2 separate regions of the Homo sapiens genome follow, and region 1 is linked to region 2. Evidence: fine-mapped expression QTL. A gene starts in region 2. The other region holds a variant in brackets. All regions are shown on one strand. Distances are between the middles of the regions. Region 1 overlaps EIF2A (eukaryotic translation initiation factor 2A). Region 2 holds the start of SELENOT (selenoprotein T).

The links. PIP is the estimated chance that this variant, and not a neighbour inherited with it, causes the effect. A credible set is the group of variants that fine-mapping cannot tell apart.
Region 1: its variant is the best candidate, but not a certain one, in a credible set for the expression of SELENOT in whole blood (INTERVAL, PIP 0.68).

The regions. Positions count from the first base shown.
Region 1 is chr3:150,578,735-150,583,131 of GRCh38, forward strand. EIF2A (eukaryotic translation initiation factor 2A) reads left to right here. Exons shown (of 14, transcript NM_032025.5): 12 at 2,884-3,012. The region is part of intron 1 of LOC124900547 (a long non-coding RNA gene); the gene reads right to left. Among named protein-coding and RNA genes, the nearest start is that of SELENOT, 22 kb to the right of the region's middle. The variant C/T (reference allele first, on the strand shown) is at 1,970.
Region 2 is chr3:150,601,140-150,605,536 of GRCh38, forward strand. SELENOT (selenoprotein T) reads left to right here and starts at 2,182. Exons shown (of 6, transcript NM_016275.5): 1 at 2,182-2,360. The coding sequence starts at 2,224. It overlaps LOC124900547 (a long non-coding RNA gene), which reads right to left and starts at 2,044. Exons shown (of 2, transcript XR_007096128.1): 1 at 1,805-2,044. RefSeq lists enhancers at 1,971-2,050, 2,171-2,320, 2,293-3,066, 2,341-2,640.

The sequences.
Region 1 (4,397 bases), 22 kb before region 2:
GGACGACTGGCTGAAGTTAGTAAAAGTTGTGGCTGTGTGATGGAACAAAGCTAAATGGCCCTTGACAGAATCTCACCTTATCCAGACCTTCTTAGTCCTGACTCTGAAGTAAATAGTCAAAGATAGAGCAGTCAGATATATGTAATCTAACTAGTATTTTTGTAAACTGGTGATAATTTTATAAGTTTGTTGACTTTACCAAAAAAGAGTTGAAACATAAGAATTTAATCTTACCATATATACGTCCTTTCTAGAGAATGGCTAGAATTTAAGTATAATAATGCAGACATTTCAACTTGTTCTTGGTTAGTTTGTGGGGAAAAATAAATTTTATATATCACTTAATTTTAATGGTTTTTCACATGATAAGATTAACCTTTCTTCCTAGAGAGCTATATTCTTAGCTCATTACAAACAACTAAAATTTTATATTTTTAAAATCTGATATCAAAAGTGAATTTTGATAGGCAGAATATCCCCTCTTCTTTTATTTACTCTTCTACTTTAATTTTATATTGTGAAAAATATAAAACTGCCTATTACCAGAACTTACAGGCTCCTTAAGAGGAGAAACTTAATATTTTCTTTCGAATTCTCAAAGTGCCCAGTAATTTGTTTTCATGTAGAAGGTAAATAATTGTTTATTAAATAGTACCAAAAAGTGAAACCAACATGACTTTAAAAAGAAAAATTGGCTGGATGCAGTGGCTCACACCTGTAATCCCAGCACTTTGGGAGGCCGAGGTGGGTGGATCACCTGAGGTCTGGAGTTCGAGATCAGCCTGTCTAACATGGTGAAACCCCATCTCTACTAAAAATACAAAATTAGCTGGGTGTGGTAGCAGGTGCCTGTAACTGTAATCCCATCTACTTGGGAGGCTGAGGCAGGAAAATCGCTTGAACCCGGGAGGTGGAGGTTGCAATGAGCTGGAATCGTGCCACTGCACTCCAGCCTAGACTCTGTCTCCAAAAAAAAAAAAAAAGAGAAAAATTGACTTCAATTCTGTATTTTCTAAAAACTCTTAGGCAGACTTTTAGAGTTGAATATCTAGAAGTGATACCCTATTCTATGTTCCCTGAGGATCTGAGGATGCTTTAAAAGTTCAGAGTATCCTACCCAGAACTCTGAGTAAAAGGTTATGGAGACCTGGAGCATTATATATATATTCCACTGGAAATTCTATAAGAAGTAGAAACCCTACGTTGGAGCCAATAAATACTTACATAATTTTTTCCCCTCTTACCAAAATATATATCTTGTCATAATTATAAAGGAAGAGTCATTCCTTTATTTTTTATTTATTTAGCCTGTGCAACGAAGCAAGTATTATGCTAGAGGCTCAGTTCTAATGGGGAATGGTAGAATATGGTGTTACCGTAGGGAAAAATACTGGGCATTATGAGAGCCTGGGAAAGGTGCGACTATCCAGTCTTAAGGTGGGGAGATTTTCCAGAAGACTTAAAGGATAAGTAGGGTTCAGCCAGGTGACTTGTGGGGGAAGGTGTTCTAGGCACAAGGAACAATATATAGTAGTCTCCCTTTATCCTGGAGGGGCAGAGCTATGCCTGAAACCACAGATAGTACCGAACCCTATAGAGACTGTGATACACAGTAAGAGATTAACAGTAACTCATAAGAAAATAGAGCAATTATAATAATATACTGTAATAAAAGATATGTGAATATGGTCTCTCAAAATATCTAATGGTGTTGTATTCACCCTTTTTGCGACAATGTGAGATGGTACAATGCTTGTGTGGTAAGTTGAATGACCACGGCTATAACTTGCAGTTCAAGGCGCAACTGCAAAACTAGCACTAATCTCTTTTTTCTTCTTCCCAAGTTCATGGATAGGTTTAATCTTACTGTAAATCATAGCAAATCAGCATACAATATTTTTTATTCCTTATTAAGAACTTTCACCTTTTCACTTAAAGGGAGCACTTTACGGCTTCTCTTTGGCATATC[C/T]GAATTGCCAGCATCACTACTCTGCACTTTGGGACCATTATTAAGTAAAATAAGGGTTACTTAAACACAACTACTGTTGATACTGTGACAGTCGATCTGATAACCAACACAGCTACTAGTGAAAAATAGGTGGGGAGCGAATACACTGTGGATACACTGGATAAAAGAATGATTCTCGTTCTAGGCAGGATGCTGAGAGATTTCATCACACAGCTTAAAACTTATGAATTGTTTATTTCTGGGATTTTCCATGTAATATTTTTGGGCTGCAGTTGACGCTTGGTTACTGAAACCATGGTTAAGGGAGACTGCTGTACACAAAGGCCAGGGGCAAGAGTATACAGCACCTTAGCGGAAATAAAAGTGATTCAGAATCAGTGAGGAGGGACAAGAAAAGTTATCAGAGGTCTGATCATATTGGAAGCATTATGGCATCCCTTTAAGGGGAAAAAAGTTTTGTGGTACTTTGTTGCAGAGCTGAATTGATCTGATTATAAATTAATATCTGTAGGATTCTTATTCTTGTAGCATAATCCATTACAGGTACTTGATCATACATATTCTTTATAGTTTTGGAGAGAGCCTTGTAAGAGTGAAACTTTAAACACCTTAAATAGAAAAGCCCTCTCATATGTTCAAACCATCTATCTACTGGCACATCTCAGAATATGCAAAAGTTTGGAATGCTTGTTGGCTGGTACAGAAACTTCCTGGTTTACTCTGATAAGGTCATTTTATTTCTAACATGGGAGTATGTAGCATACTTCATGAGACCTTTAATTCAGATTCTTTATATAAAATGTAGATAAAATCACATATTTAGTTTCTGTATTTCATATGCCAAAGCTATGTTGATTTAAATACTGTAATGTTTTTGGCTTTTAAAATTGAATTTAAAAAAATATTTCCTGCAGGAAGCAAGAAGTGACAAGAGTCCAGATTTGGCACCTACTCCTGCCCCACAGAGCACACCACGAAACACTGTCTCTCAGTCAATTTCTGGGGACCCTGAGATAGACAAAAAAATCAAGAACCTAAAGAAGGTGAGAGACTTAAAAACAGATGTGCATATTGAAAGGTATACATGAAAATTATATAAGTAAGAGAGTACTTAGATGCCTAAAGACAGGTATCTAAGAAGTTGGTATCAGCAGTTCTCATTGTTGTTTTCTCACTATGAAGCACTGTTCACTTAGGAATGGTATTGATTTTAGTTCTATTCATAAATGTCTGAAGACTCTTAGTACTTTGATTTTTGGAGTAATAAAATTCAGTGTGCATCAGCATAGAAATATACTGAACACTTTTTTTTTTTGAGACGGAGTCTTGCCCTGTTGCCCAGGCCGGAGTACAGTGCCACAACCTTGGCTCACTGCAACCTCCGCCTCCCAGGTTCAAGCGATTCTCCTGCCTCAGCCTCCCGAGTAGCTGGGACTACAGGTGTGCGCCACCACGCCTGGCTAATTTTTATATTTTTAGTAGAGACAGGGTTTCACCATGTTGGCCAGGCTGGTCTCAAACTCCTGCCCTCAGGTAATCCACCCGCCTCGACCTCCCAAAATGCTGGGATTTGTGAGCCTCCTCGCCTGGCCACTGAACACTTTTTAATTTAATTTAATTTTTTTTTTTGAGACAGAGTCTTGCTCTGTCGACCAGGTTGGAATGCAGTGGCGCGATCTCGGCTCACTGCAAGCTCCGCCTCCCGGGTTCAGGCCATTCTCCTGCCTCAGCCTCCCGAGTAGCTGGGACTACAGGCGCCTGCCACCACACCTGGCTAATTTTTTGTATTTTTAGTAGAGACGGGGTTTCACCGTGTTAGCCAGGATGGTTTCAATCTCCTGACCTCATGATCTGCCTGTCTCAGCCTCCCAAAGTGCTGGGATTACAGGTGTGAGCCACTGCACCTGGTCACTCAATACTTTTATACTCAGTATTTCATTAGATACCTTGTGATAATTAGGGGCAGATATTTATCCTAGTTTTGAAGATGAAGAGACAGAGACAAAAAAGAAGTGTATTGATTTGTGATATTGCAGCCAGTGTGCTGGGGTGGCCCTGGGGATAAAAAAAGGTCTCTAGAGCCCTTCACAGCTGCATTATGAGGTTTCTCTTTCATTCACTTTTTATCGGGCAGGACTTTGGACCAACAATCTTTCAGAATGCTCTCATTGAGATTTCTCTCAAAGCCAGAAACATCACCCAGGTCCAATGGGGCATTGAAATGTGCCATTACTGATACATTTATATATACACATGCATACACGATAACATTAATTAAAAGCCTGAGAATAATATTTTGCCAAATCTCATGTTTTTAACATTTACAATTTTGCATTTAACTTTAAAAAACAATTTATCCTAGCATTTTAACAGACCATTGTTGATACAAATCTAAGATAATTAATCTCCTTACTTGAGTTTCACATTC
Region 2 (4,397 bases):
TTCCTTTCCATCGTGGAAATCTATCCTCAAGGAAATCACTTCTCAATGTTCCATCTGCTATTCTACTACCCTGCAGGGATTGTTCAGGCCCCCTCCCTTCCCTACACATCAAGCTCGGGGATTTGCCCCGCCGAGGACTGGCAAATTGACTTTACTCACATGCTTCAAGTCAGGAAACTAAAATACCTCTTGGTTTGGGTAGACATTTCACTGGGTGGGTAGAGGCCTTTCCCACAGGGTCTAAGAAGGCCACCGCGGTCATTTCTTCCCTTCTGTCAGACATAATTCCTCAGTTTGGCCTTCCCACCTCCTCTCTTTCCTTGAAAATCACTGAAGCCTCGACTTACTCACTGCTGAAAAAGGAGGACTTTGTATATTTTTAAATGAAGAGTGTTGTTTTTACCTAAATCAATCTGGCCTGGTATATGACAACATAAAAAAACTTAAGGATAGAGATAGAGCCCAAAAACTCTCCAACCAAGCAGACAACAACGTTGAACCCCCTTGGACACTCTCTAATTGGATGTCCTGGGTACTCCCAATTCTTAGTCCTTTAATACCTATTTTTCTCCTTCTTTTATTCGGACCTTGTGTCTTTCATTTAGTTTCTCAATTCATACAAAACTGCATCCAGGCCATCTCCAATAATTCTATACGACAAATGCTCCTTCTAACAACCCCACAATATCACCCCTTACCCCCAAATCTTTCTTCAGTTGAATCTCTCCCACTGTGGGTTCCCACGCCGCCCCTAATCTCGCTCGAAGCAGCCCTGAGAAACATCGCCTATTATCTCTCCATACCACCCCCAAAAATTTTCGCTGCCCCAACACTTTACCACTATTTTGTTTTATTTTTCTTATTAATATAAGAAGACAGGAATGTCAGGCCTCTGAGCCTAAGCTAAGCCATCATATCCCCAGTGACCTGCACATATACATCCAGATGGCCTGAAGCAACTGAAGATCCACAGAAGTGAAAATAGCCTTAACTGATAACATTCCACCATTGTGATTTGTTTCTGCCCCACCCTAACTGATCAATGTACTTTGTTGATCAGTAATCTCCCCCACCCTTAAGAAGGTTCTTTGTAATTCTCCCCACCCTTGAGAATGTACTTTGTGAGATCCAACCCCTGCCCCCAAAATATTGCTCTTAACTCCACCGCCTATCCCAAAACCTATAAGAACCAATGATAATCCCACCACCCTTTGCTGACTCCCTTTTCGGACTCGGCCCGCTTGCACCCAGGTGAAATAAACAGCTGTGTTGCTCACACAAAGCCTGTTTGGTAGTCTCTTCACACGGACATGTGAAACACTGTGGTCAATTTTTTTTCTTTTTAATAATAATTCTTTTTTAGAAATATGTGCTTAAATAATTGTAAGCCAGGCATAGTTGCCTGTGCCTGTATTCCTAACCACTTGGGAAGCTGAGGCAGGACTGCTTGAGCCCAGGGGTGTGAGGCTGCAGTAAGCTATGATCACGCCACTGAACTCCAGCCTGGGTGACAGTGAGACCGTGTTTAAAAATATATATATACAGATGAAATGATATGATGTCTGAGATTTGCTTCCAAATATGCCTAGGAAGGGAAGAAGTGTTTAGAGATATAGACAAATCAAGATTGTCAAAATGTATAGTAACTGTTAAAGCTTGCTAAGGTAGTTATTCTATTTTTGGATATGTTTGGAATTGTCCAAAGGTTTCCTAAAACTTATGTTTAATATTCTTTCAGGAGAAAGCAATATTGTAAGATCAAAGAAAAGGCCATAACAGCGCACCCAAAAAATTTCAGCATTACCATTCTGAGGGTCAGGAGTCTCCTCCCTTCCATCCGCCAACACTTGAATCAGGACTATAAAGTAGGTGTTTCCAAGTCTCAGGCAGGTAAATGGATAAATTGCAAAACTGGATGCAGAACTCACATCTGCCTCATACATAGGCCCTGTGACACCCCACCAGCTCCTTTGCTCCCTTTCTGCCTTTCTCATGCCGTCCCAGAGTCTTGCACACTACCAAGATGGTGGTGAGTCAGGACAGTGAAACAGGTCGGCTCTTCACTCCAGGAGTGTGCGCGGGCGCCGGGCCGCGCAGGCGCATTACTGCTCCCCTCCCCCGACCTTGGCTGATCGCGCCTGCGCAGTGGGGAGCAGCTCGCTCCTGGGCTTTGGGCTGGCTGCAGTCTGTCTGAGGGCGGCCGAAGTGGCTGGCTCATTTAAGATGAGGCTTCTGCTGCTTCTCCTAGTGGCGGCGTCTGCGATGGTCCGGAGCGAGGCCTCGGCCAATCTGGGCGGCGTGCCCAGCAAGAGATTAAAGATGCAGTACGCCACGGGGCCGCTGCTCAAGTTCCAGATTTGGTGAGTATGTGCACTGGGCCCCGGCCACCCCGCCGCGCCTCTGCTCGGCGCCATTGGCTACGCGAGGCCCCGGCTTCGCGGCCTAAATGGCCGCATCTTCGCTGGCCTCGTAGAACTGTGCCGGCGCCCTTCCACAGCCAGCCTTCTCGCGGCCCCTTAGCGCGGTCAGGCCGCCCTCCTTTTCCAGGTATAACTGCTCACTTGTTTTTTGCCTCCTAGAACAGTGGGAATGGGGAAGGAGGGCGCGAGAAGGTTAAACGCTGAAAGGCGAAGACTGGGGGACACCTGTTAGTACGGAGGACTGGTTGGCGGCGTCACGCCATAGCCACCCCGGCTGCCTGCGGAGATGGGGATGAGTAGGCGCCGCGTCGGCGGAGGAGCGCCAACCGTTTGTCAGTTCACTTTTTCTGCCCTCTTTTCCGGGGTAATGCCGGGCGGCTTCGCTGCCTGGCTAGATGAAGGTTAATTCGGGTCATTGGAGAGGATCCGGGAGTGACAGACGCCGTTTTTCTCCTGAACTTGCTGGGGGGACTGTTGAGTTTGCGAATGGGGCGTCTGACAGCTGGAGGGGGTGGAAGGAAGGTCTGGGGATGCTGGTTCTGTTTGCCATTTCCAAAGTGTCAGAAAAGGAGCACGTTGTTCTTCTAAACATTGACAGTTCGCTCGCATTCCCTCCTCACCTGCCTCCCAGGAGTTGCCTGCTCTGGCATCTCTTTCTACCTTTCAGTTGTCTTGTGTATCCAGCAGATCTCGGCAGTTTTCGACAGTGTTCTTTAAATGATTTTGTTTTTAACCTAATCGTTAGAAGCAGGGCAATGATGCATTTTATACGGTAAGTGGGGTTGCGGGTGGGGATTGAAAGGCTCTGAAGATGGGGGAAAAAACACCAAAATTGTAAAATTATAGAAATGAGAATCTTACACCTCCAAAGATGACATTTTCTCAGGATAAACCGACCATCCCAGAATAGCCAGATTAGTAAATCATCAGAGTCCGGATACATTGGAATGTTGGTGTTGGACATCATTCATTTAAAACCTTCTTTTAAGAACTTCATGTATTAGTATATTAAAGTTTTGATTTTCTACTTCTCCAACTAGCTTTTTACTTACTCACTGAAGACCAAGCAAACCTTTAAAATAATTTTTAAAAATCGGCTTAAGGTGATGTTTGAGTTAGAAAATAAGATGGTGAGACTTTATTTTTTTGAGTGAAAACTAAAACATTGCAATTTCTCCTGATTAAAAACAAACAAGGCCGGGCTCGCTGGCTCACGCCTGTAATCCCAGCACTTTGGAGGCCGAGGCTAGCGGATCACCTGAGGTCGGGAGTTCGAGACCAGCCTGACCAACATGGAGAAACCCCCATCTCTACTAAAAATACAAAAATTAGCCTGGCGTGGTGGCGCATGCCTGTAATCCCAACTACTTGGGAGGCTGAGGCAGGAGAATCGCTTGAACCCGGGAAGCGGAGGTTGCGGTGAGCCGAGAACGCGCCATTGCACTCCAGCCTGGGCAACAAGAGCGAAACTCCGTCTCAAAAAAAAAAAAAAAAACCTCCCTGTACAATGTACTATGTTTCTGGAATATATCATCTTTCATGTAATACTGCAAATGGGAGAATGGTTTATCCATTAACTTTTTTCCTTAATTTTTAAATTAGAAGGTGGTAATCATCTTACTAACCTAAAGATTGTTAAGGGTTGTGATACTTACGGATTTAAGTGTTAAAAAATTGCAGTTTTCAAATTATTTAATTTTTCTGTATCCTACTTTTATCTCTTGGTTGTATTTTTGCTTTTCCAAAATACCCCTTTTACGTTTGCTTTTTTTGGAACACTTGTCACAATAATTTACCAGGTGTATCTTCCACCAAGGCTATTCATAGCAAGGTTTTCAAAATGTGTAAACAAACGTAGGGAAGGGCATTCAGTCCTTCAAATTAAACTTAAAAAAAAAGTAGTAAGTACTTCAGTTAAACTTTTGATACTTTGTTTTTCTTTGTTTTTAAGTACAGACCTGTCCCAAAAGTCTAATA